Regions from separate parts of the Homo sapiens genome. Here region 1 is linked to region 2. The links come from fine-mapping of genetic effects on gene expression. A gene starts in region 2. The other region holds a variant in brackets. All regions are shown on one strand. Distances are from middle to middle.

Evidence for each region. PIP is the estimated chance that this variant, and not a neighbour inherited with it, causes the effect.
Region 1: its variant is fine-mapped to the expression of ZNF268 in whole blood (INTERVAL, PIP 0.95).

Annotation. Positions count from the first base shown.
Region 1 is chr12:132,980,426-132,996,148 of GRCh38, forward strand. ZNF26 (zinc finger protein 26) reads left to right here and starts at 5,942. Exons shown (of 4, transcript NM_019591.4): 1 at 5,942-6,448. The coding sequence starts at 6,416. It overlaps LOC124903064 (a long non-coding RNA gene), which reads left to right. Exons shown (of 2, transcript XR_007063552.1): 2 at 2,551-3,285. It also overlaps the pseudogene RNU4ATAC12P. RefSeq lists enhancers at 5,563-6,032, 6,288-6,787, 6,513-6,562. The variant A/G (reference allele first, on the strand shown) is at 6,105.
Region 2 is chr12:133,173,425-133,189,147 of GRCh38, forward strand. It overlaps ZNF268 (zinc finger protein 268), which reads left to right and starts at 8,071. Exons shown (of 6, transcript NM_003415.3): 1 at 8,071-8,262; 2 at 8,522-8,606; 3 at 14,448-14,648. The coding sequence starts at 8,574. RefSeq lists enhancers at 7,789-8,313, 7,909-8,218, 8,259-8,458.

The DNA.
Region 1 (15,723 bases), 190 kb before region 2:
TACCAAAGTTCTTTATGCCCATTTACATTTAACCCCTGTTCCTACTCCTATCCTTAGGCAACTACTGATGTGATTTTTCACTCTACAAATTTGCATTTTCTAGACATTTTATATCCACAAAATCATACATGCGATGACTTTTCTGTCTAGCTTCTTGACATCAGCATCATGTTTTTGAGGTTTATTCACATCGCATGTATCAGCACTTCCCCCCTCTTCTAATTGCTGAACAGTATTCCATCGTTATGGCTATACCACGTTTGTTTATCCAGGCATCATTTGATGGACATTTGAGTTGCTTTCACTTTTCTTTATCCAGTCAGCAGTTGATAGACATTTTGGGTTGTTTCCAGTTTCTGGCTATTATAAATAATATTGCTGGTCGGGTGCGGTGGCTCACGCCTGTAATCCCAGCACTTTGGGAGGCCGAGGTGGGCGGATCACGAGATCAGGAGATCGAGACCATCCTGGCTAACACGGTGAAACCCCGTCTCTACTAAAAATACAAAAAATTAGCTAGGCATGGTGGCGGGCACCTGTAGTCCCAGCTACTCAGGAGGCTGAGGCAGGAGAATGGCGTGAACCCGGGAGGCGGAGCTTGCAGTGAGCCGAGATCGTGCCACTGCACTCCAGCCTGGGCCAGAGTGAGACTCCGTCTCAAAATAATAATAATAATAATAATAATAATAATAATATTGCTATAAACATTATCATAAACGACTTTATACAGACATAAGTTTTCATTTTCTCTTAGCTATCTAGAAGTAGCATTGCAGAGTCATGCGGTAAGTTTATGGTTAACTTTTTAAGTAATGGTCAAACTGTTCTCCAAAGTGACTGCTATTTTTACATCTCACTAGCAAAGCATGAAGGCTCGTTTCTCCACATACTTGCCTACACTAGGTATTGTCTGTTTTTCTTATTATAGCCATTCTATTGAATTTTTACTGGTATCTCATTGTGGTTAACTTTGCTGTTCCCTAATGAATAATGACGTTGAGCATCTTTGTATGTGCTTATTAGCCATTTCTGTAGCTTCTTTGGTGAAAAAAATATATATATATTCAGATCTTTTGCTCATTTGCAAAATTGGGTTGCTTGTCTTATTATTGAGTCATAAGTGTTCTGAATACAAGTCTTTTATCAGATAAATGATTTGCAAATATTTTCTTTTAGACTGTGGCTTGTCTTCTCACTTTCTTCATACTGTCTTTTGAAACAAAAGTTTTTATATATTGACAAAGTTCAATTTATCAATGCTTTTATTTCATGGATCATGCTTTTGTTGTTATATCTGGAATCTCTTTACCCAACCCAAATTTACAACAATTTTCTATTGTATTATAGTTTTAGCTCTTACTTTTAGGTCTCTGACCCGTTTTCAGCTAATTTTCATGTATGACGTGTAAGGCAAGTCTTCTCCTTCTCCTCCTTTGGCATATAGGCATCCATTTACCCAGAATCATTTACTAAAGTCTACCTTTCATCATTGAATTATCTGGGTAACTATGTCAAAAATTAATTGGCCATAAATGTTACAATGTATTTCTAGATCCTTAGTTATTTTCCATTGATCTATTTACTTATCCTCTTGCTAATATCACACTGTCTTGATCACTGTGGCTTTATAGCAAATTTAAAATCAAGTAGTGTAAGTCTTACAACTTTATTCTTTTTCAAAATTGTTTTGCTATTCTATGTTCTTTGCATGTCATTATAAATTTTATGTTCAGCTTGCCAATTTTTACCAAAAAGTCTGGTGGGATTTTGACAGGAATTGCATTTAATTCATAGATCAATGTGAGGAGAATTGCCATATTGATAGTATTCAGCCTTTCAATCCACTAATATGAAATGTCTTTGTTTATTTAAATATTTGTTAATATCTCTGAGTAATGTTTTGTAGTTTCCAACATACAAGTTTGTACTTCCTTTTTTATTTTTTATTTTATTATTTTTTTTGAGACGGAGTCACGCTCTGTTGCCAGGCTGGAGTGCAGTGGCACAATCTCGGCTCACTGCAACCTCCGCCTCCTGGGTTCAAGCGATTCTCCTGCCTCAGCCTCCCGAGTAGCTGGGACTACAGTCGCCTGCCACCATGCCTGGCTAATTTTTGTATTTTTAGTAGTGACGGGGTTTCACCATGTTAGCCAGGATGGTCTCGATCTCCTGACATCGTGATCCACCAGCCTCAGCCTCCCATAGTGCTGGGATTACAGGCATGAGCCACCGTGCCCGGCCACATTTTTACTTCTTTTATTAAATGTATTACTATTTTATTCTTTTTGATGCTGTGAAAGAAATTGTTTACTTAACTTCATTTTAAGATTATTCACTGCTAGTATATAGAAGTATAGTGTTTATATATTGATCTTGTACCCTTTGACCATGCTAACATCATTTATTAGTTTCAGTGGTTTTATTATTATTATTGATTCCTAGAAATTTTTTATATAGAGGATTATGTCATCTGTGAATAAAGCCAATTTTACTTTTTTTTCCAATCTGGATGCTTCCTTTTCTTTCTTTTCTTTTGCTTGATTGCACCAGCTAGAACATCCAGTACAACATTGAACAGAACCAACTAGAACATCCAGTGCAACGTTGAACAGTATTAGCCAGAACATCCAGTACAATGTTGAACAGAACCAACTAGAACATCCAGTTCAACGTGGAACAGAACCGGCTAGAACATCCAGTACAACGTGGAACAGAACCGACTAGAACATCCAGTGCAACGTGGATCAGAACCGGCTAGAACATCCAGTGCAACGTGGATCAGAACCGGCTAGAACATCCAGTGCAACGTGGAACAGAACTGGCTAGAACATCCAGTGCAACGTGGAACAGAACCGGCTAGAACATCCAGTGCAACTTTGAACAGAAGTGTTGAAAGCAGACACCCTTGCTTGTTTCCTATTATAGGGGAAAAACACTCAGTCTTTCACCATTCTGTAGGATGTTAGCTAGGGTTTTTAAAAAATGCCCATTATCAAGTTGAGGAAATTCCCTTTTATTCCTAGATTGTTGAGAGTTTTTGCCATGAATAGACGTTGGTTTTGCTAAATGCCTTTTGCTGCATCTATTGAAATAGTCACATAGTTTTTGTTTTTTATTATACTGATTTTCAGTGTTGAACCAATCTTTCATTCTTGGTATATATTCCATTTGGTCATTTTACAAAATCCTTTTTGTATGTTGCCAGATTCAGCTTACTAACATTTTTCTTAAACAGCTTTATTAAGTTATAAAGTGATATAGAATAAACTGCATGTATTTAAACAATTTGGTAAGTTTTCACATGAGTAACCACCTGCAAAACCAGTTTCAGGAGAAAAAGAGTTTTCTCAAGCCTTAAGAATTTTTGTGTCTATGTCTATGGTACTACACACCATAGGAATATTGGTGTGTAGCTCTGTTTTGTTTTTCCCTCGTGATGTCTTTGTCTAGCTCTGGTATGAGAATAATACTGGCTTCATAGAATAAGTTGGGAAGTATTCCCTCTCATCTATTTTCTGAAAGAATTTGTAAAGAATTATCCTTTCTTCTTTAAGTATTTGATGGAACTCACTAGTGGAGCCATCCATTCCCAGATTTTCTCTGTGGGAAAATTTTTAATTAATTAATTTCTTTTTTTGAGACAGGGTCTCATTGTGTTGCCCAGACTGGAACGCAGTGGTGGGATCATGGCTCACTGCAGCCTCAACCTCTCAGGATCAAGCATTTCTCCTGCCTCAGCCTCCCAAGTAGCTGGGATTACAGGTGTATGCCACCACACCTGGCTAATTTTTTTAATTTTTAATTATTATGAGTACATAGTAGGTGTATACATTTATGGATTACATGAGATATTTTGATATAGAATGCATATTATAATGCAATGATTATTATGCAATGCATAAAAATCACATCAGGGAAAATGGGGTACCCTTAAGCATTTATCCTTTGTGTTACAAGCAATCCAATTATACTTTTAGTTATGTTAAAATGTACAATTAAATTATTTTTGAGTATATCCTGTTGTGCTAGAAAATACTAGGTCTTATTCTAACTATTTTTTCTGCCAAATGACTATTTCCATCCCCCACAGTGTCCCACTACCCTCCCAGCTGCTGGTAACCATCTTTCTACTCTCTATCACCATGAGTTCAATTGTTTTAATTTTTGGCTCTCACAAATAAGTGAGAATATGTGAAGTTTGTCTTCTCTGCCTCGCTTATTTCACTTAATATAATGATCTCCAGTTCCATCCATGTTGTTGCAAATGACAGGATCTCATTCTTTTTTATGGCTTCCTAGTACTCCATTGTGTATATGTACCACATTTTCTTTATTCATTAACCTGTTGATTGACACTTCGGTTACTTCCAAATCTTGGCTATTGTGAATAGTGCTGCAGTCAACAAGGGAGTGCAGACAGCTCTTGGATATACTGATTTTCTTTCTTTCGGGTATATACCTAGGAGTGGGATAGCTGCATTGTATGGTAGCTCTATTTTTATTTTTTTGAGGAACCTCCAAACTGTTCTCCATAGTGGTTGTACTAATTTACATTCCCACCAAGAATGTACCAGGGTTCCCTTTTCCCCATATCCTCACCAGCATTTATTATTGCTTGTCTTTTGGATAAAAGCCATTTTAACTGGGGTGAGATAATATCTCGTTGTAGTTTTGATTTGCATTTCTCTGATGATCAATTATATTGTGTACCTTTTCATATACCTGTTTGCCATTTGTATGTCTTCTTTTGAGAAATGTCTATTCAGATGTTTGGCACTTTTTTTTTTTTTTTTTTTTTGAGACAGGGTTTCACTCCTGTCATCGAGGCTGGAGTGCAATGGTGCAATCTCGGCTCACTGCAACCTCCACCTCACGGGCTCAAGCAATTCTGCTGCCTTAGCCCCCCAAGTAGCTGAGACTACAGATGCATGCCACCACATCCGGCTTACTTTTGATATGTTTTGTAGAGACGAGGTTTCACCATGTTGCCCAGGCTAGTCTCCAACTCCTGGGCTCATGCGATCCACCCACCTCAGCCCTCCAAAATGCTGGGATTACAGACGTGAGCCATCGTGCCTGGCCATTTTGCACATTTTTAAATCTCAAAAGGCCAATCTACAATAGTGGTGTTATCTGTAGGAGTAACTGGGGAAGTTGCGTGTCTTGTGACCAATCCACATCTTAGCAGAATTCAGGCTCCTCTCCTCCCGCTAGCTTGGTGGTCTCTCATAGGTTTTACAAAGGCAGTTGGGTTTTGGAAAAGGGCTATCATTTGAACTATAACCTAAATGTCTTCCAAAGTTAGCTTGGCCTAAGCCCAGGAATAATGAAGGCATCTTGACAGCCAAAGGCGCGCAGAGTTGGGGGTTTGGTTAGATTAGACCTCCCCCACTGCTATAATTTTCTCACTGATATAATTTTTGCAAAGGCAGTTTCATTACTGGTGTGGTTCTATTTATTTGTTTTTCACATCTACTATAGTTTCTCCTTTATGAAGTTGGTTACTGTATTATTTGGTGCACTGATATTCAAAACTGTTATTTAACCCTATGAACTGCAGCTTTTAGCTTTACAAAGCGTCCTTTTTTGCTGTGCCTTCTGGTCTGAACCCTATCTTGTTTGATATCAAAACCTCAGCACGCCTGCGTCTCTGCTGGGGTCGGACTCTGAGTCAGTTCTACAGGCCCTGGGAAACTGGGCGTCCAGGCTCCGAGGATGGTACTGAACCTGGCGCAGCCGTGGGAGGGTGAACCAGGTGCCGCTGGCGGAGCCCCCTCCCAGCCTTCCTTTCCCGTCAGGCTGTGCCCCTCTCTAGATCCGCGGCAGCTGGAAGCCAGGCCTGTAACGAGGGAGCCTTCTCCGAGGATTGTGGGAGATGTAGTTTTTCCGGCGCCTTCGCGTCCTGGCGCATCGACGCAGGACGCACTTCCGCATGCGCCGCACTCCCGGCCTTAGTCGGGTGCGCGCGTGCAGGGCTGTTTCCGGCTTAGACTCAGTGGACCGGAATCTGGCCAGCGGGTGTACCTGGCTGAGTCTCTGTGGCCGCGGAGGCGCGGAGCTAAGCGGCTCGGATTATCCTGGGCAGACCAGAGACTTGACCAGCT[A/G]AACACTTCCGTCGGTCCGGGGCGTGGACGGGGCCAGATCAGCCTCCTGCTCTCCCGAGTCAGGGCCACGGAAAGGCACAAATCCATCCGTGCGACTCCTGGTACCCAGACCGGGAGGTTGTCTAGTCACGCGCGGTCTGTGTTGGGCGAGAGCTGAGGAGCCGGCGTCCCTGCCAACGACTCGGCCCCGGGACGGTCAGGAGCCTGGGGCCCTGGTCCCGCACCTGTCTTCGGGCGGACGCATCCCTCACGGTCTCTCCGCAGCCCGCGGGTCCTGCCCCCGCAGGCAGCGCGCGAACGTGGGCGTGGGGATGGCCACCAGTTTCCGGACAGCTTCGTGCTGGGTAAGTAGAGACTTTCCGTGTTTAAAATTCGACTGGATACTGAGGGTGGCCACGTTAATCTCTTCAGGGTTACTCCGGGAACTGAACTCACATTCAGCTGTAATTGTGTGCGTAGTTTACTAGACTACCCTCCCCACCAAACCAAAGCGCCTCTGAAGCTCGCCCAAGCTCTGGCCCTGCAGAAACGTGCCTGTGGTATTCTGTGACGGGCAGTTATACTGCACTTCATGGCCAGCTGCGGGCCCTGAAGTCTGAGGATCCTCCATCATTTCATGTTTTCTACACAAAGTTGTCTTATGGAGACCCTTAGAACTTAGCTGGAGAAATGATCAGTTCCTCCTTTTTCGTTTGGCCAAATGCTTGTTTATGGAGTGTCCTTTTGTCTGCTGGACTCTAAGGCTGGTGCTGGCAATGCAGAGATAAATTATGTATGTTCCTAATTTTAGAGGAGCTTTGGTTTGGTGGAGAGGGTAGTCTAGTGAACTATGGACGCAATTACAGGTGAATGAATAGGGAGAAAAGGCTAGGAGCGGAGCTCGAGAGTCCGAAAGGTAAGGGGCGGGCCAGTGGATCATCGGGACTTTATGAATTATTGATGGAGTGAACCAGAGGGGAGTCTTTACAAGTGATTTGATTGCCAAATCCTTTGCCCTCGGTGAGTGGTGTTGACGACGTTGCCGGATGTGGTGCTCTACCATTGAGCTATACAGCCGGAGACTAGGAATGCTATTGGAAGAGGGACCCTGGGAATGACTTTCGCAGGTGTTGAATATCCAATGCCTGTATTTCAGCCTGTAACTCACATGGGAGGTCTAAACTGGAAATACATAAAGACACCTTATTGTATTCGTGGAAGCTCAGAGTGTGACCAACTGGAACCCTCAAGAGGACCGAGGTGAGGACTCAGGTTAATGAAAGGAAAGGACACACGGTGGAGAAAGGCTGTTGTGCTAAAGAAACGAGAGAAAGTTAGGAGTGGATTTCTCCCCCTGTGAGTTTGTTCCTTTGTCAGAGATCAGTTGACTATATTTATATGGGTCTATTTCTGGGCTCTTTATTGAGTTCTATTGATCTATTTGTTGTTTCACTAATACCACACTGCCACACTGTCTTGATTTTTGTAGCTTTGTAATAAGTCTTTTTTTATTTTTTTGAGACGGAGTCTCGCTCTGTCGCCCAGGCTGGAGTGCAGTGGCGCGATCTCGGCTCACTGCAACCTCTGCCTCCCGGGTTCGAGCGATTCTTGAGCCTCAGCCTCCCGAGTAGCTGGGATTACAGGCACATGCCACCCAGTCCGGGTAATTTTTGTATATTTTGTAGCGATGGAGTTTAGCCATGTTGCCCAGGCTGGTCTTTATAGTAAATCTTTTGTTTTTTTTTCAAGGCAGGATCTCACTCTGTTGCCCAGGTTGGAGTGCAGTGGAACAGTCACAACTCACTGCAGCCTCGAACTCCCGGGCTCAAGGGATCCTCCACCTCAGCCTCCTGAGTAGCTGGGATTACAGGCATATGCCACCACATCAGGCTAATTAAAAATTTTTTTTTTTTTTTGTACAGATAGGGTCTCACTGTGTTGCCCTGGCTGGCCTGCAACTCTTGGCCTCAAGCACTTCTTCCTCCTTGGCCTCCCAAAGCATTGGTGGGATAACAGGTGTGAGCCACCATGCCCAGCCTATAAGTCTTGAAGTCAGGTTCATTCTCCCAAATGTATTCTTCTGCTTCCGTATCCTGTTAGCTAATCTAAGTCTTTTGTCTGTCTGAACTTTATAATCAGTTTGTCAACATCTGCAAAATAACTTGCTGGGATTTTAACTGACAGTGCATTCAATCTGTAGATCAAGTTGGGAAGAGCTGAAGTCTTGAATATTGAGTCTTCCTATCCATGAACATGTTATATCTCTCTATCTAGTTCTTAGTTTTCATTCAGCAGTGTTTGGTAGTTTTTCTCATATAGATTTTATATAGTATCATTATATATTTTGTTAGACTTACACCTAAGTATTTAATTTTTGTGGGTGCTACTGTAAATGGTATTGTGTTTTTTATTTCAAATTCAGCTTACACCTGTGTACAGGAAAGGGGTTGACTTTTGTATATTAACTTTGTATCCTGCAACCTTGGTATAATCATGTAGTTCCAGGAGTCTTTCGGTGAATTTTTTTTTTTTTTTTTTTTTTTTTTTTGAGACAGAGTCTCGCTGTTGGCCAGGCTGGAGTGCAGTGGCACAATCTCGGCTCACTGCAACCTCCACCTCCTGGGTTCAAGCGATTCTCCTGCCTGAGCCTCCTGAGTAGCTGGTACTACAGGCATGTGCCACCACGCCCATCTAATTTTTTTGTATTTTTAGTAGAAATGGAGTTTCACTGTGTTAGCAGGATGGTCTCGATCTCCTGACCTCGTGATCAGCCCACCTCGGCCTCCTAAAGTGCTAGGATTACAGCCATGAGCCACCGTGCCGGGTCTGGTGAATTCTTTTGGACTTTGCACAATTATGCCATCTGTGAACAAAGTTTTATTCCTTCCTTCACAGTCATTATACATTTTACAGGTTAAGTATCTTTTATTCAAAATGCTTAAGACCAGAATTGTTTTGGATTTTGGATTTTTTCAGATCTTGGACTATTTACATATACATAAGATATCTTGGGGATGGGACCCAAGTCTAAACACAGAATTTGTTTATGTTTCATATATACTTTATACGTACAGCCTGAAGGTAATTTTATACAGTATTTTAAATAATTTTGTGTGTGAAACAAAGGTTGTATTAAGTTAATGTGTGGGATTTTCCACGTGTGAGGACTCAAAACGTTTTGAATTTTGGAGCATTTAGATTTCAGGTTTTTGGAACAGGGATTCTCATCCTGTATTTTCTGTTCTTGTTTTTTTGCCTCAGATAGGACTTCCAGTACAATGTTGAAAAAGAGTGGTGAGAGGGGATTAAAGATACATTTTGCCTTGTTGATCTTAGTGGGAAAGCTTCAAGTTTCTCACAGTTAAGTATGATGTTAGTTGTAGCATTTTTCTTGGTAGATATTCTCTATCAAGTTGAGAAAGACCCTTGTTCCTAGTTTAGTGAGGGTTTTTGTTGTTGTTAATTGTGAATGGGGTTGGATTTTGTCAGATTTTTTTTCTGGGCCAGATGTGGCTCACACCTGTAATCACTTTGGGAGGCTGAGGCAGGAGGATAGCTTTAGCCTAGGAATTCAGGACCAGCCTGGGCAACATAGTGAGACCCCATCTCTACAAAAAATTAAAAAACAAAATAGCTGGGCGTGGTGACACATGCCTGTAGTCTCAGCTACTGAGGAGGCTGAAGTGGAAGGATTGCTTGAGCCTGGGAGGTTGAGGCTGCTGTGAGCCATGTTTGCACCACTGCACTCCAGCCTGGGTGACAGAGCGAGACCCTGTCTCAAAAAAGAAAAAAAGTTTTTTCTGCATCTATCTATGCTTTTTCTTCTTTAGTCATTTGATACGATGGAACTGATTCAAGTATTGAACCAACCTTACATACCAGGAATAAATCCCACTTGGCTGTGGTGTACACTTGTTTTTATACATTGTTGTATTTTATTTTCTAGTATTTTGTTGAGGATTTTTGTATCTATATTTATGAGATAATTTTTCTGTAGTTTTCTAGGGTTTCTGTCTGGTTTTGGTATTAGAGCGATGCTGTCTTTATAGACTGAGTTAGGATTCCCTCTGCCTTTATCTTCTGAAAAATATTGTAGAGGGAAAAAAAGATTGGTGTGATTTTTTTCCTTAAATGTTTGGTAGACTTCACCAGTGAGTGAACCCATCTTGGCCTGGCACTTTCTGGTTTGGGTGATTCTTAATTTTTGATTCAATTTAGGCTTATTAGAGTGTCTGTTTCTTTTTGTTCAGTTTTGGCAGATTGTGTCTTTCAGGGATTTGGTCTGTTTCATCTAGGTCATGAAATGTGTGGACGTAGAATTGTACATAGTATGATGTTCCTTTATTGTCCTTTTTTCTTTTTATTTTTTTGATAGAGTCTCACTCTGTCACCCAGGCTGGAGTGCAGTGGCATGATCATGGCTCACTGCAACCTCTGCCTCCCAGGTTCAAGCGATTCTCCTGCCTCAGCCTCCCGAGTAGCTGGAAGTACAGGTGTGTGCCACCATGCCCGGCTAATTTTTGCGTTTTTAGTAGAGACAGGGTTTCACTATGTTGGCCAGGCTGGTCTCGAACTCCTGACCTCAAGTGATCCACCCACCTCAGCCTCCCAAAGTGCTGGGATTACAGGCATGAGCCACTGTGCCCAGCCTCCATTACTATTTTGAACAGACTAGGTCAACTAAGTATAAGAAAAATAGCTAGGCATGGCTGGGCGTGGTGGCTCAGGCCTGTAATCCCAGCACTTTGGGAGGCCGAGGCGGGTGAATCACGAGGTCAGATGTTCAAGACCAGCCTGATCAACATGGTGAAACCCTGTCACTACTAAAAATACAAAAGTTAGCGCCGGGCATGGTGGCACACACCTGTAATCCCAGCTGCTCAGGAGGCTGAGGCAGGAGAATCGCTTGAACTCAGGAAGCAGAGGTTGCAGTAAGCCAAGATCGTGCCACTGCACTCCAGCCCGGGCGACAGAGCGAGACTCAACAACAACAACAAAATAAAAATAGCTAGGCATGGTGGCTGATGCCTGTAATCCCAGCACTTTGGGAGACTGAAGCCAGGAGTTTGAGACCAGCCTGGGCAACGCAGAGACCTTGCCTATACAAAACAACAACAACAACAAAAAAAAAAAAAACCTAAAAAAAAAACCAGGTGTGCTAGTGTGCACCTGTAGCCCCAGCTACTTGGGAGGTGAGATGGTGAGGTGAGCCCAGGAGTTCGAGGCTGCTGTGCCACTGTACTCCAGCTTAGGCAACAGAGCGAGACCGTCTCAAAAAAATGATCAGAAAAAAAATTTTAATTTTACTTTCACTTATTCTTTCTTTGATGTTCTCACTTTTTAAAATATATATCTGTGGCCGGGCCTGGCGGCTCATCCCTGTAATCCCAGCACTCTGGGAGGCTGAGGCCGGCGGGTCATTTGAGGTCAGGAGTTCGAGACCAGCCTGGCCAACATGGTGAAACCCTGTCTCTACTACAAATACAAAAATTAGCTGGGCATGGTGGTGCGTGCCTGTAGGCCTGGCTACTTGGGAGGCTGAGGTATGAGAATCGCTTGAACCCAGGAGGCGGGGGTTGCAGTGAGCCAAGATCATGCCACTGCACTCCAGCCTGGGCAACAGGGTAAGACCCTATCTCAAAAAAAAAAAAGTGTATCTGTGTTTCTGACCTGTATTTTCCTTTTCTGCCTAGTTAAGGCAAGTTTACTTGAAATAGCAATAAATTATCTTAGTTTTTGTTTGAGAAAGACTTTTTTTTACTTTTGAAGGATAATTTTGCAGGGTACAGAATTCTGTTTTGATGATTTTTTTTTCTCTAAACACCTTAACTGTTTCACTCCATTTTCTTGCTTGTGTGGTTTCTGTAGGTAAGGTATTTTTTTTCATCTCTGGCTTATCTTTGATTTTTTGTGTTTTAAAAATGATATGCCTACGTGCAGGTTTTTTGGCATTTATCTTCTTGGTATTCTCGGATTTTCCTCCATCTGTGATTTGGTGTCTGACATTACTTCAGCGAAATTTTCAGTAATTATTGTTTCATATATAGATGCTCCTTGACTTGATGATGTGGTTACATCCTGATAAACTCATCATAAATTGAAAATCTCTTTGTCAGAAGTGCATTTTCGACTTACAATATGTTCAACTTATAATAGGTTTATCCAGATGGAGCCTCATCATAAGTTGGGGAACGTACTGAAGTGTATTGCTTCTGCGCCATTGTAAAATTGAAAAATACTAAGTCAAACCACTGTGCGTCAGGCACCGACTGTCTTTCTTCTGTTCTTTTCCTTTCCTTCGGGTATTTCCATTGTGCATATCTACACCTTTTGTGGCTGTCCATCTTGGATATTCTGTTCTTTTTTTTTTTCCCCAGTGTTCTCTTTGCTTGAAGGTTTCTGTTGATACATCCTTAAGTTCAAAGATTTTTTTCCTCAATCTCGTGCAGTCTACATAATACATAAGCCCATCAAAGGCATTCTTCACTTCTGTACAGTGTTTTTGATCACTAGTATTTCTTTTTTTTTTTTTTTGAGATGGAGTCTCACTTTCTTGCCCAGGCTGGAGTGCAGTGGTGCGATCTGGGCTCACTGCAGCCTCTACCTCTCAGGTTCAAGCCATTCTTGTGCCTCAGCCTCCTGAGTAGCTGGGACTACAGGTGCGCACCACCGTGCCTAGCTAATTTTTGTATTTTTAGTAGAGACAGAGTTTCAGTATGTTGGTTAGGCTGGTTTCGAACTTCTGACCTCAAGTGATCTACCCACCTCAGCCTCTCAAAGTGCTGGGATTACAGGTGTGAGCCACTACGCCTGGCCTGCCCATCTGTTCTTACATGCTGCCTACTTTATTCACTAGAGCCCATAACATATTATTCATGGTTGTTTTAAGTTTTGTCTGATACCTTCAACATCCCTATCATGTCTGGTTCTGATGCTTGCCCTGTCTGTGTTTTTGTTTTTGTTTTTATTTTTTTTTTTGAGATGGAGTCCAGGCTGGAGTGCAGTGGTGTGATCTTGGCTCACTACAACCTCCGCCTGTTGGGTTCAAGTGATTCTTCTGCCTCAGCCTCCCGAGTAGCTGGGACTACAGGTGCACTCCACCATGCCCGGCTGATTTTTGTATTTTTAGTAGAGACGGGGTTTCACCATACTGGCCAGGCTGATCTCGAATTCCTGACCTCAGGTGATCTACCCCCCTCGGCCTCCCAGAGTGCTGGGATTACAGGCGTGAGCCACGGCGCGTGGTTGCCCTATGTTTTTTTGCCTTTTAGTATTGCCTTGTCCCTTTACATTCATAGCTAGACATGATGTACTGAGTAAAAGGAATTACTTTTAATAGTACTTTACTAATGTGGTGATGAGATGTCAGGAAAGGGTGAGCATTCTGTAGGCCCCTGATTAGGTCTGTCTCTTTGTGAGCCTGTTCTCCTGGACTCTCAACCTCACAAGTATTTCCCAGGCCACCCCCACCCCATCTCTTAGATGGGACAGGGTGGAATTTGGTATATCTCTCTTCCCTCAGGTTAGTTAAGCTCTGACAAAACCCCAATATATTAGGCTCTGGGAACCTGGTTGAGCTCCTGAAAGTAAAACTCAGAAAAGCTTGGGACTTTGTCTCCCTCCACTCCCACCATGACTGGGTCCCCCTGGACTTTTTAACTTCAAACATGTACACACCTAGCCTCTAGCAATTTGTCAGTTGCAGTTCAGGTATTTCTGTCCTGACGCTTTCTCACAGAGATTTGTGATCTGGTAACTACTGTGTTTCTGCCTGTCTCTAATTTTGGGGACAGTGGTTTGTTTGCCTTGTATCTTCACTTCTCTTTCAGATCTAAGAAGAGTTGTTGATTTTTCAGTTTGTTAAACTTTTTACTTGTTAGGACAGAGTGGCTACTTCCAAACTCTTTACATGCAGAACTGGAACTATTAATTTTTGATGATACAGTTGATTCTCTTAGAACACAATTCAGTCTCTTATAACCACCCACCCATCCCAATCCCCTCTCTCTCCTCGGAGGTAATCAGTTTGATAGATATTCTTCTAGGTCTTTCCCTGTACATTTTTAATGCATATGTTTATATCCTTAAAATGTTTGTGTTGGCTTATTTTTGTGAAGTTGTATGATATTCTGTTGTATGAACATTTCATAATTTGTCTGTTGTAATAATCTGTTATCAACATCAGTGTTTAGGTTGTTTTCAGTTACTGGTTATTTTAGATAACACGACTTTGAACCTTTTTGTACATTTGTTTTGGTAGACATCAACTATCATTTCTGTTAGGCACATACCAGGATTTTTCAACCTCAGCACTATTGACATTTTGGATGGAATAATTCTTTGTTGTGGAGGAACGTCCTGTGCATCGTGGGTTGCTGAGCAGCATTCCTGGCCCCGACTTATGTAGGTGCCAGTAGCACTGCCCCACTATGACAACCATAAAGGGCTCCAGACATTGTCAAATGCCCCCGGGGGGGCAAAATCTCCCTCCTGCCCATTGAGAACCACTGGGCACATACTTACGAATGATACTGTTGAGTCATTGTATACGTATATTTAAATTTAGTACATACTCTTAGTTTTCCAAAGTGGCGAAATGACTTCACATTCCCAGTACCAGGAATTGAGAACTGCATTTGCTCTATATCCCTTTTTATTTTCATGGAAAAGAGGTTTTCCACTTTTCAAAAAATTGCACCACCATAGTTGATGTGGGTGTGTTGTGTAGGCGTTAGCAGTATTGCCCTCACCATGCGCTCACTGGACAGTAACACAACCCCACGAGAAGGATGGTTTGCTCCACATCCTTAACAGACTTGTATTGGCCATTGTCCCGTTGATGCTCATTTCAGGGATCAGTTGTTTGTTTCTAAATGTCTCCTTGTTTTTTTTTTTTTTTAATTCCAGTTCTCCTTTTATTCACTGTATACAACTTCTCTGTATTTTAAATATTTACATAGTTATATATTATGATAGTTATTTGTAATATTACTTGTTTGCTAACATCATCTGGATCATCTGTGCATCTTTATCAATTATCTGCCTATTCCTTTTGTCAGTCATATTTTCCTGCCTCATGTCTCAAAGTTTTTAATTTTTTGCTGACATTGTTTTAAAAGGAATAACCACAGAGACTGAAGTTTACTGTTGTGGTTTTTTTTGAGACAGAGTCTTGCTCTGTCGCCCAGGCTGGAGTGCAGTGGCGCGATCTTGGCTCACTGCAACCTCCGCCTCCTGGGTTCAAGCAATTCTTCTGCCTCAGCCTACCCAGTAGCTGGGATTACAGTTGCCCACCACCATGCCTGGATAATTTTTGTATATTTAGTAGAGACGGGATTTCACCATGTTGGTCAGGCTGGTCTCAAACTCCTGGCCTCAGGTGATCCACCCACCTTGGCCTCCCAAAGTGCTGGGATTACAGGGGTGAGCCACCATACCTGACCTTACTGTTGTTTTATATCAGAGGATATTTCCCCTTTTCTCTGTCATGCAGTAGGGGAATGGCTGATCACCTCAATCAAAACAGGAATTGAGCTGTTTAGGGGCTGTACTCTGTTACCTGTGTCTTCGGGTTTCTGGATGGTATATTTATTGCAGGCTCCTCTCTACTGGTACTTTGTTTCTGGAGCACCTTGAGGCT
Region 2 (15,723 bases):
AAGTGTGTAGCACCTCCCCCCTTACTCTGCCTTGCTCTTGTTCTGGCCTTGTGAAATGCCACCTCCCCTTTTACTTTCTGCTGTGAATGTAAGTTTCCTGAGGCTTCTCCAGAAGCTAAGTGATGCTAGCATCATGCTTCCTGTACAGTCTGTGGAACTGTGAGCCAATCAAACCTCTTTTCTTCATAAATTACCCAGTCTCGGGTACTACTTTATTTCTTTATTTATTTTGAAATGGAGTCTCGCTCTGTCACCCAGGCTGGAGTGCAGTGGCGCGATCTCGGCTCACTGCAACCTCTGCCTCCCAGGTTCAATCAGTTGTCCTGCCTCAGCCTCCTAAGTAGGTGGGACTACAGGCATGTGGCACCACGCCTGGTTAATATTTTGTGGCTTTAGTAGAGATGGGGTTTCACAATGTTAGTCAGGATGGTCTTGATCTCCTGACCTCGTGATTGCCCACCTTGGCCTCCCAAAGTGCTGGGATTACAGGCTTGAGCCACCGGCCCAGCCATGTATTTCTTTATAGCAATGTGAGAACGGACTAATACAATAACTTGTCAGAGCAGTCTTACTCCCATTGTCCATGCCACCCCAGTTTCCCAGGAGATTGTGAGCCCATTCACCTGCCTGGTGTGCTGCTACTACAACCATCATTTGAGAAAGGCACTACACCGAGGGTATTTGTAGCCAATGAAATAATACAGACTTTGCCACTGTAAATACCTAGAAGCAAAGTAAAATGGCTCTACCCGACCAACATCATAGTCACATCATTAAGAAAAAAGTGTCCCCCCAACAAAAGTAAATTCAAAAGTAAAAGAAGCAACTATTGCTTCATATGTGCAGAAATCAGTGTAAAGGTATAGGAGACATGAAAAAGCAAGATATTATGATACCCTGAAAGGAACGTAATAATTCTCCAGCAATACATCTTAACCAAAAAGAAAGTCTTGAAATGCCAGATATAGTATTCAAAATATTGATTTTAAAGATGGTCAATAAGATGCAAGAGAAATCTGAAAACTTATGCAAAGAAATCAGAAAATCAGTTTAGGATATAAATGTGAAATTTACCAAGAAGATAAGATACCTTTGAAAAAAAAACCTAACAAATTATTGATCTGAAAATTTCATTGAAGGAATTACAAAATACATTTGAAAGCTTCAACAATAGACTAGATTAAGCAGAAGAAAGAAGACAATTCTTCTGAAGTAATCCAGTCAGACAAAAATTTAAAAATAAATAAAAGAATGAACAAAACCCTCAAGACATTTAGGGCGACATAAAGTGACTGAACTTATGAATTACTGTCATCTGAGGGGAAAGAAAAATAAAAAAGGGTAGAAAATCTATTGAAATAAATAATCGACGAAAACTTACAAAGTTTAACCAGAGATTTGGACATTCAGATACTGGAGGTCCAGCAATCCTCAGAAAATTTATTGCAAAAAAGATTTCAACACAGCATACAATTTCAGACTGCTTAAAATCAAAGTAGAAGGAACTAATTTTAAAATCAGCAAGAGAAAAGCGCCTAGTCACTTACAAAGAAAACCCCATCAGACTAACAGTGAACTTCTCAGCAGAAACCTTACAGGACAGAGCAGAATGGGGTGGCATTTTCAAAGTGCTAAAAGAAAAAAACTTAGCCAAGAATTTTATATCCAGCAACATTAAGCTTCATAAATGAAGTAGAAATAAAGCCCCTCCCAGACAAGCAAACACTGAAGGAATTTGTCACCACTACACTGGTTCTATAAGAAATGCTCAAGAGTCCTAACTATGGGAATGAAAGGCTAATATTCACCATCATAAAAATACATGAATGTATAAAACTCACAGGTCTTATAAAATAATTAAACAGAGGAGGAAGACAAATAAATCAAATGGCAACACAACAGAATTCCACCAAAGCACAAAGAGACAGAGAAAGAGAAAGAAATAAAAAACTTATAACACAACTAGAAAACAACAATATGACAAGAACAAAACCTCACATATCAATATTAGCCTTGAATGTAAATGGAATAAATACTCCACCTAAAAGCTATAGATTTGCAGAATGAATTTTAAAAGATAATAAAACTATATGCTGCTTACAAGAAATTCACTTTACCTGTAAAGACACATATGGACTAAAAAAAAAAGGGGTGGATAAAGATATTCCACACAAATGGAGACCAAAAGTGAGCAGAAATAGATATACATCAGATAAAACAGACTTTAAATCATCAGTAAAGAAAAAGAAAAAGAAAATCAATATATGATAACAGGATCAAATCAGCAAGAGGATATAATAATTCTAAATGTATATGCACCCAACACCAGAGCACCCATATTCCTAAAACAAATATTTCTAGTTCTAAGGAAAGAGATAGACAGCAATACAATAGTAGTGGGGGACCTCAACACCCACTCAGAGCAGTAGACACATCATCAAGACAGAAAATCAACAAAGAAACATTGGACTTAAATTGGACTTCAAACCAAGCAAACCTAACAGATATTTATGGAATATTCTACTCAACAACTGCAGAATATACACTTTTCCCATCAGCACATGGAACATTCTCCAAGATAGACCATATGTTAGGCCACAAGGCAAGTCTCAACAAATTTTTAAAAATCAAAATCATATCAATTATCTTCTCAGACTGCAGGGGAATAAAGTAGAAATCAACAACAAGAGGAACTTTCGAAACCATACAAATATGTAGAAATTAACTATATGCTCCTGAATGATCACTGGGTCAGTGAAAAAATTAAGATTATAATTTAAAAGTTTTTTGAAACAAATGAAAATGGAAATACAACATATCAAAACCTATAGGATTCAGCAAAAGCAGTGCTAAGAGGGAAGTGGATAGCATTAAATGCCCATATCAAAAAAGCAGAAAGATTACAAATTAACAACCTAACATTACTTCTCAAGGAACTAGAAAAATAAGAACAAACCAAACCCAGAGTTACCAGAAGAAAATAAATAACAAAGGTCAAAGTAAAACTAAATGAAATAGAGACAAAAATGGATACAATATAATGGACCAATAAAACCAAAAATTGGTTCTTTGAAAGGAAAAAACCCTAAAACTGACAACTACTAGGTAGACTAACCAAGAAAAGGATAGAATATCCAAATACACAAAATCAGAAATGAAAAAGAAGACATTACAACTGATACCACAAAAATACAAAAGATCATTAGAGACCATTATGAACAATTATATACTAACAAACTATAAAACCTAGATTATAAGGATAAATTCCTGGAAAATACAACCTCCCAAGATTGAAACATGAACAAAGAAAAACCCTGAACAGACCAATAATAAGGAGCAAGATTGAATCAATAATAAAATATCTCCCCCACCAAAAAAGCCTAGGGTGAAATCGATTCACAGCCGAATTCTACCAAATGTACAAAGAACTAATACCAATTCCCCTAAAGCTGTTTCAAAAAATTGAGGAGGAGGGAATTATTCTTCCTACCTCATTCTACAAGGCCCTATGTTACCCTGATTCCTAAACCAAGGACACAACAAAAAAAAGAAAACTATAGACCAATATCCCTCAAGAACACAGATGCAAAAATCCTTAACTATATACTAGCAAGCTGAATTTAACAGCACATGAAAATGATAATACACATGATCAAGTGAGTGTTATACTAGGGATGCAGGGATGGTTCAACATACACAAATCAGCAAATGTGATGCACTGCATAAACCTAATTAAGGACAAAACCCACACGATCATCTCAATAGATGCAGAGAAAACATTTAATAAAATTCAGCATCCCTTCATGATAAAAATCCTCAAGAAACTAGGCATAGAAGGAACATACTAAAAAATAGTAAAGGCCACATATGACAAATTCACAGCCAACATCATACTGATGAGAGAAAAGTTGAAAACATTCCAAGAACTGGAACAAGACAAGAATGCCCACTTACACTACTGCTATTTAACATAGTACTGCAAGTTCTAGCCAGAGCAATCAGGCAAGAGAAATAAAAGGCATCTGAATTGGAAAACAGGAAGTCAAATTGTCCCTGTTTGCAAATGATATAATCTTATATCTAGAAAAACCTAAAGATGCCACTGAAAAAGTATTAGATTTGATAAATGAATTCAGGAAAGCTTCAGTATTCAAAATCAAAACAAAAAATCAGTAGCATTTCTGTACCCTAACAACATCTAGCTAAGAACAAAATCAAGAAGGCAATTCTACTTTTAATAGCTACAAAAAGCTCACCTCAGAATACATTTAACCAAAGAGGTGAAAACTCTCTACAAGGAAAGTTACAAAATACTGATGATAGAAATTGTAGATGATATAAACAAATGGAAAAACATCCCATGCTGTTCAGAGGAATTAATAATGTTACAATTATCATACTATCCAAAGCCATCTACAGATTCAATGCACTCCCTATCAAAATATCAACGTCATTCTCCACAGATTTAGAGAAAAAAAATCCTAGGCCGGGTGCGGTGGCTCACAGCTGTAATCCCAGCACTATGGGAGGCCAAGATGGGCATATCATGAGGTCAGGAGTTCAAGACCACCCTGGCCAACATGGTGAAAACCCATCTCTACTAAAAATACAAAAATTAGCCGGGCATGGTGGTGCACACGCGTAATCCCAGCTACTCTGGAGGCTGAGGCAGGAGAATTGCTTGAACCTGGGAGGCAGAGGTTGCAGTGAGCCGAGATCATGACCCTGCACTCCAGCCTGGGTGACAGAGTGAGACTCTGTGTAAAAAAAAAAAAAAAAAAAAAAAAAGAGAAAAGAAAAAGAAAAAGAAAAAAAATCCTAAAATTCATATGCAACCGAGAAAGAGCTCAAACAGCCAAAGCAATCCTGAACAAAAAGAACAAAGCTGGAGGCATAACTTCACCTGACTTCAAATTATACTATAAGGCTATAATAACCAAAACAGCATAGTACTGGTATAAAAACAGACACATAGGTCAATGGAACAGATAGAGATCCCAGAAATAAAGCCACATATCTACAGCCAACTGATCTTTGACAAAGTCAACAAGAACAAGCATGGGGAAAATACAACCTCTTCAATAAATGGTGCTGGGAAAATTGGATTGCCATATGCAGAAGAATGAAACTTGACCCTTATCTCTCGCCATATACAAAAATCAACTCAAGCTGTATTAAAGACTTAAATGGAATACCTGAAACTATAAACATACTAGAAGAAAACCTACGGAAAACCCCTCTGGACATTGGTCTGGGTAAATAATTCATGACTAAGACCTCAAAAGCACATGCAACAAACAGAAAAAGAGAGAAATGGGACTTAAACTAAAAATCTTCTTCATAGTGAAATAAACAGTAAGCAGAGTGAAGAGACACTTGCAGAATGGGAGAAAATTTTTGCAAGCTTTGCATACAAGAGGGGACTAATATCTAGAGTTTACAGGGAACTCAAACAGATCAACAACAACAACGAAACCCAAATAATCCCATTAAGAAGCAGGCAAAGAACACAAATAACACTTTACAAAAGAAGACATACAAATGGCCAACAGGCATATGAAAATATGCTCAACATCATCACTAAACATCAGAGAAATGCAAATTTAAACCACAATGAGGCCGGGCGCTGTGGCTCACGCCTGTAATCCCAGCAGTTTGGGAGGCCGAGGTGAGCAGATCACCTGAGATCAGGAGTTCAAGACCAGTCTGGCTAACATGGCGAAACCACGTCTCTCATAAAAAATACAAAAATTAGCCGGGCATGGTGGTGGGCACCTGTAATCCCAGCTACTTGGGAGGCTGAGGCGGGGAGAATTGCTTGAACCCAGGAGGCGGAGGTTGCAGTGAGCCGAGATCAAGCCACTGCACTCCAGCCTGGGCGACAGAGCGAGGTTGTGGGGGAAAAAAAAGAGATATTATCTTACATCAGTCACAGTAGCTGTTATTAAAAAGACAGGCCGGGCCGGGTGCGGTGGCTCACGCCTGTAATCCCAGCACTTTGGGAGGCCGAGGCGGGCAGATCACGAGATCAGGAGATTAAGACCATCCTGGCTAACACGGCGAAACCCCGTCTCTACTAAAAAATACAAAAAAGTAGCCAGGCGTGGTGGCGGGCCCCTGTAGTCCCAGCTACTTGGGAGGCTGAGGCAGGAGAATGGCGTGAACCCGGGAGGCGGAGCTTGCAGTGAGCCCAGATCGCGCCACTGCACTCCAGCCTGGGCGACAGAGCGAGACTCCGTCTCAAAAGGAAAAAAAAATCAAAACAAACAAAAACAGGCCGAGCTCGGTGGCTCATGCCTGTAATCCCAGCACTTTGGTAAACTGAGGTGACCGGATCACCTAAGGTCGGGAGTTTGCGACCAGCCTGACCAACATGGAGAAACCTGTCTCCACTAAAAATACAAAATTAGCCGGGTGTGGTGGTGCATGCCTGTAATCCCAGCTACTCAGGAGGCTGAGGCAGGAGAATTGCTTGAACCTGGGCGGAGGTTGCGGTGAGCCGAGATCGGGCCACTGCACTCTAGCCTGGGTAACAAGAGCAAAACTCCGTCTCAAAAAATAAAATAAAATAATAAAAATAAAAAGACAAAGAAGATGTTGGTGAGGATGTGGAGAAAAGGAAACTCCTATACACTGTTGGTGAGAAAGTGAAATTAGTATAACCTATGGAAAACAGTGTGGAGAATTCTCAAAGAACTAAAAATAGAATTACCATTTGATAAAGCAATCCTGTTACTGAGTATCTACCCAAAGGAAATCATTATATATATAAAAAAAATACCTGCACTCATATGTTTATCACAGCACTATTCACAATATCACAGGTATGGAATTAACCTAAATGTCCATGAATGGATGAATAAAGAAAATGTGTTATATATACACAATGGAATACTATTCAGCCATAAGAAAGAATGAAATTGTCTTTTGCAGCATCATGGATGGAACTAGTGGCCACTATCTTCAGTGAAACAACTCAGGCACAGAAAGAAAAACACATGTTTTCACTTTAAGTATGAGCTAAAGGATATGTACACATGGATGTAGAGTGTGGGATGATAGACAATGAAGACTCAAAAGGTGTGGGGGGGTTTCAGGGATAATCATAAATTACCTGACTGGTACAATGCATATAACGTACTATAGGGCGTGGATACCTTAAAAGCCTTGACATCACCACTACACAACTGATGCATGTAACAAAATTACACTTGTACCTCATAAATTTATAAAAGTTTTTAAAAGCCAAAAACAAAAGAATTCTAGAAAACTTGTATCTGCCTCTGTGAATGTCACCTCTTCCCAATACTTAAGATCAATAATGATTAGTGGATATTTTCCGTTGGTGCAAAAGTAAGTAATTGCGGCTTTTGCCATTAAAGTAAACCAATATTTTCCAACTGGCCAATACATGATGTTACGAAATCATGCGTGATAAAAGAATCCATTCAAAGTGCAGTGTAGACCAACGGATTTTATGTAATAGAGTAGAAAAAGTTCATCTACGTGGTTTCAGATTGTACACTAACAAAACTATCCCTTGTTCGACTTGTATCTTTATATACTTTAACAAAAACAACATACGCAACAGATTAAACATAGAAGCAGATATGAGAATCCAGCTTTCTAGTAAGTCAGAAAAGACTTAAAAAGCGAAGCCACTCCTTACTAAATTTTTTCTTTTGTAAAATATATGTAATTTTCATTAAAATATTATTTATGTTAACATGTAATGGGAATTTTACGAATCTGTTATTAAAGTGTAAAGCAAAATAAGACTTTTACCATTTCAGTAAAGCAGGGACTAGAACACTTGTAACCTAATTTACATCCCTCCAACCGTTGAGCCATTGGTGTCAAGTATTTTAATTCTCTTTAAAATTTAAAACCTGCAAGCGCGGGAGCTCAGGGACCTGGCCAGGAAGGCCTGAGCTTCCGGGTCATCTTAGCACGCCCCCTCCCGGTGGCCCTTGGCCGGAGCCCTCCGGCGCGGGAGTAACTCCTCGCAGAGGCCTCTGGGAGTTGTAGTTTTTTTGCCTTTGCCTCTCCATGACGCAATTCCTGTGCGACATACGTAGCGGCCGCCATTGTTCCGCGCCGATGGCGAGATCCTTGTTCCTCAGATAGCGTTCATCGCCCGTCGTGGTCAACGGGCCAGCCGAGTCTGGAGTGGTTGCGAACCCTTCTGGCTGCAGATCTGGAGGTGGAGGCAGTACCCTGGACTCTATTCTGCTGCCCCTTCAGGGTTTGGAGGAGCCGGAGGTGCGGAATTCCTCCGGTTTCAAGGCGGCGGGACGGGACAGAACTAATCTGCCTTAGCTCTCTCCTGCTGCTGACCCGGGGCGGTTGCCTGACCCTAACCTGTGTGTTGGTGAGGGTGTGGAGATGGTGAATCCCGTGCTGTGGGAGGGAAGGAGCCTCAGCTCCGAGAATGGCAGGCAGCCCTGGTGCCTCGGACCCTCCCCCTCTGGGTTTGGGGACTGCTGGGTGACCTCTTTCTTCACTGTGCTCTCTCTTCTAGCATCCCTCGCGTCCTGTCACTTCCAGCGAGGCACACAAAACTGACCGTAGGGATGGCCACCAGGGTCCGGACAGCTTCTATTTGGGTGAGTAGGGGTTTTCTTTCATTCTTGAAAAGCTCTCCCTGAATGCCAACGTGTGCGCACTCCATCTACTCCAGTCTGAATTTGCCAGGAGCTTTCTCACCCCACCGCTCTTTTAGGCAACTGGATCGTCATTTATAGCATGTTAGACTTTCCAGAAATGCTTCTTGTCATCCGACTTCCTTTTTTCCTCCTTTCATCAATCTCTTTTCTAACAACTTTGTACGCTGAACTTTGGAGTTAAACAAGGGATACTCACACATCTTTCAGTTTTTTCAGCCTTTATTTACTGAGGGCCTTCTGTATCTGGGATCTTTAAACCTTATTTTGGAAATTACAAACTTTTTTATTCACTTGTTCAACATTTTTTTTTATTGTATTTTGTTTGCTGGACCCTGGGGCAGGTGCTAAAAATGCAAAGATGGGTTGCTTATCATCCCTGTCTTGAAGAACAGTGGTCTAGGAATGGTGGATAAGAAAGACAATGACAAGTTAATGAGTGCTCTGGGAGCAGGCTGTGGAAATACACGGAGACATGCAGGAATGGGTCAGTTTTGGAAGTAAGGACACCCCCTAACCCCTTACTCCCAAATGCTTCAATGATTAAGAGATTCTTAACCTTAGGTTTGAAAGATGACAAACCTAAAGTAGACAAAGGATTAAAACCAGCCTAGGAAAAAGAAGTAACGTGCAAATTTGAGAGGCTTGAAATGACCTCATGTGGTGAACTTTGGGCACTTTAGGGTTGCTAAAATGTTGAGTTTAATGGTGATAGTAGAGTTATATTAAAAAATGAGGCTAGAGCCGTAGGCCTAAGATCATAGAGGGCTTTGAGGACCCCATTAAAAACTTGGATTGTATCACATAGGGCAGGTGGTCCCCAACCCCCACGCTTCAGACTGGTACCAGTCTGTGGTCTGTTAGGAACTGGGGTGCATGGCAGGAGGCGAGTGGCGGTTTAGTGAGCATGACTGCCGGAGCCCCGCCTCCTATCAGAGGCTGCATTAGCTTTTCATAGCACAAACCCTATTGTGAACTGCGCATGCGAAAGATCTAGGTTGCGCACTTCTTATGGGACTCTAATGCCTGATGATCTGAAGTGGAACAGTTTCATCCAGAAGCCATCGCCGCACCCGACTGCCCGTCCATGGAAAAATTGTCCTCCACAAAACGAGTCCCTGGTTGGGGACTGTTGGTATAGGGGAAGGAGTTTACTTATTGAAGTGTTTTCACAACGGATTTGAGGGTAGAACAGTCTAGTCTGCAGCAGGTAAGAGAATATAAGGGTTTAAGTAAATTAGTGGTTTTGAGAAAGGAGAGGAGGTGGCTGGGTGCAGTGGCTCCCACCTGTAATCCCTGTTACTCGGGAGGCTGAGACAGGAGAATCGCTTGAACCCAGGAGGCAGAGGTTGCAGTCAGCCGAGATCGCGCCACTGCACTCCAGCCTGGGTGACAGAGCAAGACTCTGTCTCAAAAAAAAAAAAAGGAGAGGAGGTAAAGAGGCAGAAGAAATTAGATTTCATAACTAGTTGGGTGCAGTGCTAAGAGAGGCAGAAAAGCCAGGGATGACAACTGGAGTTCTACTCTGTGGGCCTGGTTGGGAGTGTCACCATTTGCTGAGTAAGGGAAGACTGTCAGAATTGTGATTGGTAGAGGGGGAAGATTTCAGTTTTGTATGGATTGGCTCCTCTAGGTAGAGGTTGCAAATTAGGTGTGGCCAAAGTAGCTCAGGGAGAATGTGTACCCTAAGAAGAGAACTGAGGACAGTGGTCAGGGAAATGACAAGAGAAAGCAGGGGAAGAGGTGTTGAAGACTGAGATGGAACCCAAGAAAAGTAAGACAAAATAGAGACATGTAATTCACACTTAAAGAAATGGAAACCTCAAAAATGCTTGTCAAGTGACATGTATGAGGGAGATCAAGTAATATTAGATCATTGTCTTAGTCTGTTTGTGCTACTGTAACAAAATATCACAGACTGAGGAACTTATAACAGATACTACTTTCTCACAATTCTGGAGGCTGACAAGTTGAAGATCAAGGTGCTGGTGAATTTGGTATCTGATGAGGCCTGCTTTCTTGTTTTCTTTTTTTTTTTGGAGACAGTCTCTCTCTGTCCCCAGGCTGGAGTGCGGTGGCGCGATCTTGGCTCACTGCAACCTCTGCCTCCCGGGTTCAAGTGATTCCCCTGCCTCAGCCTCCCAAATAGGACTACAGGCGTGTGCCACCACGCCCAGCTAATTTTTTTTTTGTATTTTTAGTAGAGACGTGGTTTCATTGTGTTGGCCACAATGACCTCGATCTCCTGACCTCATGATCCACCTGTCTCAGCCTCCCAAAGTGCTGGGATTACAGGCGTGAGCCACCGCACCCGGCTCTGCTCTCTGCTTTCAAGATGGCACTTTCTTGCTACATCCTTACATGGTGGAAGGGGGCAAAAAGGGAAGAATGCTGTGTCCTCACATGGCCAAAGAGATGAAAGGGCCAGGCAGCTCTCTGAAACCTCTTTAAGAGGGTATTAATCCCATTCCTGAAGGAGAGCCGTCATGACTTAATCACTATTAAAAGGCCGCACCTCTTTATTTATTTATTTATTTGTTTATTTTTTTGAGACTGAGTCTCGCTCTGTCTTCCAGGCTGGAGTGCAGTGGCTATCTCTGCTCACCACAACGTCTGCTTCCCGAGTTCAAGTGGTTCTCTTGCCTCAGCCTCCTGAGTAGCTGGGATTACAGGTGCGCACCACCATGCCCAGCTAATTGGCCCCACCTCTTAATACCATCACAATGGGGGTTAAGTTTCAACATGAATTTTGGAGGGATGCAATCATTGAAACCGTAGCAGTCATAAAAACCTAAATGGAATTTAGTGGTGATGGGCTGTGTGTGGTGGGTCACGCCTGTAGTCCCAGCACTTTGGGAGGCCAAGGTGGGCAGATCATCTGAGGTCAGGAGTTCGAGACCAGCCTGGCCAACATGGCGAAACCTCGTCTCTACTAAAAATATGAAAATTAGCTGGGCGTGATGGTGGGCACCTGTAATCCCAGCTACACGGGAGGCTGAGGCAGAAAAATCGCTTGAACCCCAGGAGTAGGAGGTTGCAGTGAGCCAAGATCACGCCACTGCACTCCAATCTGGCGACAGAGTGAGACTCTGTCTCAAAAAAAAAAAAAAAAACAAAGAATGTGTGGTGGCTACTTTAGCTTGGGTGCTCAGGGAAGGCCCCCACTGAGGAAGTGACGTCTAAGCTAAGTCTGAGTTACAATAGCAAGCCAGCCTTGGGAAGAGCAGGTAGAAGAACATCCAGGATGGGAACAGCCAGGGCCAAGGCTGCGAGGCAAGAGAAGTTTGATGCCTTGGTAACCTGGAAGGAAGGACTTTGTGACTGGGGTAGGGAGTGAGAGAGAGGAGAGCAGATGAACACAGGTGCAGAGGCCAGATCAGGGAGTGAGAGAGAGGAGAGCAGATGAACAGAGGTGCAGAGGCCAGATCAGGTAACCTGGAAGGAAGGACTTTGTGACTGGGGGTAGGGAGTGAGAGAGAGGAGAGCAGATGAACACAGGTGCAGAGGCCAGATCAGGCTGGGAAGCCATGGGGCCCGGGAGAGTGTGTGGCGCTAAGACAGGGAGCAACGTGAGCTGCTTAGGGTTTCCAAAGACCCTTCTGAGTGCTGAGTGGGGGACAGGTTGTAGGTGGGCAAGAGTAGGCACAGAAAGAGGGGGAAGCCAGAGACTGACTAGGTGACCACGTTCAGACAAGAGGTAGCAGGGATTTTGTGTAGTGTGGTAGAAATGGAGACACTGGTCAGAGTTGGGGGATGTTTGAAGGTGGAGTCCTCTTTTCTAAGAACCAGCATATGCTTTTTATCTTGTTGATTGTCATTTTGTAGTGTGGTTTATTTTCATTAAGTATTCCTGGTTTTATGTTTTGTTTTGTTTTCTTTTGCCGTTTCAACCAAATGTTAATGCTCAGTGTCTACTACGTATGAGGTTCTGTGCTAAATCATTTATTAGGTATTATCACCTTAAAACTTCACAGTAGCCCTAGCCCCAGGTGGTGAATACTGTTTTTCTCCTTTGATGGGTAAGGGTACTGAGGTCCAGAAAGGGCTAGTTGGAGACCAGGTGGCACCCCTGGTCAATGTAGAGCCAGGACTTGAACCCAGATATTCTGGCTCTACATGCATTTTCCTGGCCTGTGTACCTTATTTAGTCTCTGGATGTAGGTTGAGGATTTCTTGAGGCAGAGATTCTAGGATCCTAGACCCTGAAATGTAGAGTAAAATGTGGAGCGGGTAGACTGTGCCCAGTGTACACAGAGAAGGCTCTGAGACATAAGCTGTTGGTCTCCAGGGAATAATCTTTTTTTTTTTTTTTGGAGATGGAGTCTCACTCTGTTGCCCAGGCTGGAGTACAGTGGCACTCACTGCAACCTCTGCTTCCCAGGTTCAAGCAATTCTCCTGCCTCAGCCTCCCAAGTAGCTGGGGCTACAGGTGTACGCTGCCACGCCTGGCTGATTTTTTTTTTGTATTTTAGTAGAGACGGGGTTTTACTGTGTTGCCCAGGCTGGTCTCGAACTCCTGAGTTCAGGCAACTCACCTGCCTCGACCTCTCAAAGTTCTGGGATTACAGGCATGAGCCACTGCGCCCAGCCTCCAGGGAATAATCTTAATGTCCATTAATGGTGAATGATGAAACGTGATGGAATACTATTCACCAACAAAAAGAACAAACTATTGATATGTGCTATGACAAGCATAAACCTTGAAAGCATTATGCGAAGTGAAAGAAGCCAGACACAAAAGACTAGATATTATATGATCCCATTTATATGGCACACACATGCGTATACGTATACTTGCAATCCCACTTCTTTTTTGTAACACAAAAGCTAGCTTTCTGTACGTACTATTCTTCCCCTTGTCATTATCACTAAGAGTATATATTGATCATTGTATTATACCAATAGTGGTACATAGAGGTTGTTCGCTCCCTCTTCCCTATCTCTTATCACCTTTTACTGGCTGTATGGATGGCCCATAGTGTTTTCAACCAGTTATGTAGTTACAGATATTTGGGTTATAAAAATGCCTTGGTGAACAGCCTTTTCATGGCATTTCATTCATTGTTTCTTTTTCTAATTTTTTATTCCTTTTTTTTTAGGCTTTCCCCACTTTTCACCTGTGCCGCCTTCTAGGTCGTTGGCGCTTTTTTATGTTCCTCCTAAATTTAATCTTCATTTCTGAATTTTTTTCCTAATTTATTTATTTATTCTGATATTTCTCATTTCACATTTTCCAGATTTCACATTTCTAAGCATCTACTTTCTAGGCTCTTTTATTTTTTATATATCTGTCCTTTCAAAGTTTCGTTTTTCTGATTTCTTTTACTTCATTTTGAAATATTATGTTACAATTTTTTATGTGGTCAGATATTTTGGTTATGTTTTTATTGTCTGTCAGAGCCTCGTTTGGTTCCTTATTCCCTCATAATAATGTTGTGTGGGTATTCCTACTGCCCTACCAAACCAGCCTATTAAGACGCCATTTGGTTTGTGGCAGGAAGTCCGTTTGGAGGCTAGGATGAGCCAGGACAGTTTTCTCTAGCTTTGCTGTTTGAGGGTCGTACCTGTATTTTTATCATGAAGGGCTCAAAACTTGACTTGAACTCTTGGTGCTAAGCCTTGTCAGGAAGCCATTTCTTTTCTGCCTCTAACCCTGCATTTCCTGAAGTTAAACCTGCCTTGTTTTCTAACGTGTTTCTCTCACATTTATGTGATGTGACCCCTATTTCCTTTTCCCCAAAGGAAATAATGCTCGCTAAAGTAAATTTGCTCTTGAGTCCACAGGTCCCACCTCTCCAAGAACGAAACAGTTCATGGGATAGGATCAGAAAGCTCCAAGGTCAGGAATCCATCTTGGGCCAAGGGACTCCTGGTCTGCAACCTCTCCCTGGAACACCCAGGCAGAAGCAGAAGAGTCGCAGAATAGAGAAAGTCCTAGAGTGGCTGTTTATTTCCCAAGAGCAGCCAAAAATCACCAAGTCCTGGGTGAGCTTCTCATTTGTTTATTCCTAGTGTTTTCTTTATTACCTTTTTTTTTTTTGGTGCAGAGAGGGATGGAGATCCTTAGGTCAGAGGGTTAAGTTAATCACTCCTCAGTTCAGTTCAAAACCCCCCCACTTTTTTTTTTGAGACAGGGTCTTGGTCTGTTGCCCAGAGTGGAGCGCAGTGGTGCAATCATAACTCACTGCAGCCTCAAACTCCAGGCTCAAGTGATCCTCCAGCCTCAGCCTCTTGAGTAGCTGGGACAGCAGGCAAGTGCCACCATGCCTGGCTGATGTTTTTTATTTTTAGTAGAGAGGAGGTCTCCCTGTGTGGCTCAGGCTGGTCATCAACTCCTAAGCTCAAGCAGTCCTCCTGCCTCAGCCTCCTGAGGTGCTGGGATGACAGTCATGAGCCACTGTGCCTGGCCCATGGCCCTTTTATCATCATTGGTTCATGTAAGGTCCTTATCTACCTTTATTTATATATTCTCTTATTTCCTCATACTCAATTTTCATCTCCTTTCCCATCCCCAAAAAGTTATTTTGTGTTTTATGTGTATCCTTTTTTTTAAAAAATGTGTGTTTACGTAATATGTATTGTTCGGGAAGCTTGTTAGAAATGCAGAATATCAGAGTTCACCTCAATGCTGTTAATATCAGACTCTTCATTTTAATAAGATTCAGTGATTCATGCACATTAAAGTTTAAAACAAACTTACTATGAAGCCTATATTCAAATTTTTTCCTCGGGTGCTTCTTTTACTTCCAATATTGGCTTGCTTTTTTAGTCTCTTAATGCTTACTTTTGATGAACAGATATTTCTAACTTTTACTGAGTCTGGATTGCAAATTTTTTTATTTTATTGCTAATGATTTTTGTGTCCTATTGTTTTCTTATCCTAAGCTCATAAAGATCTTTTTCTTTATTACTTTATTACTTTACCTTTCACTTTTCGATTTACAGTGCCTTTGGGATTGAGTTCAAATCCATGAACACAGGATTCCCCCATTATTTAGATCTTTGATTTTTAAAAGTCAATGTTTATAGTTTTGAGCATACAGATCCTACACAGATATTT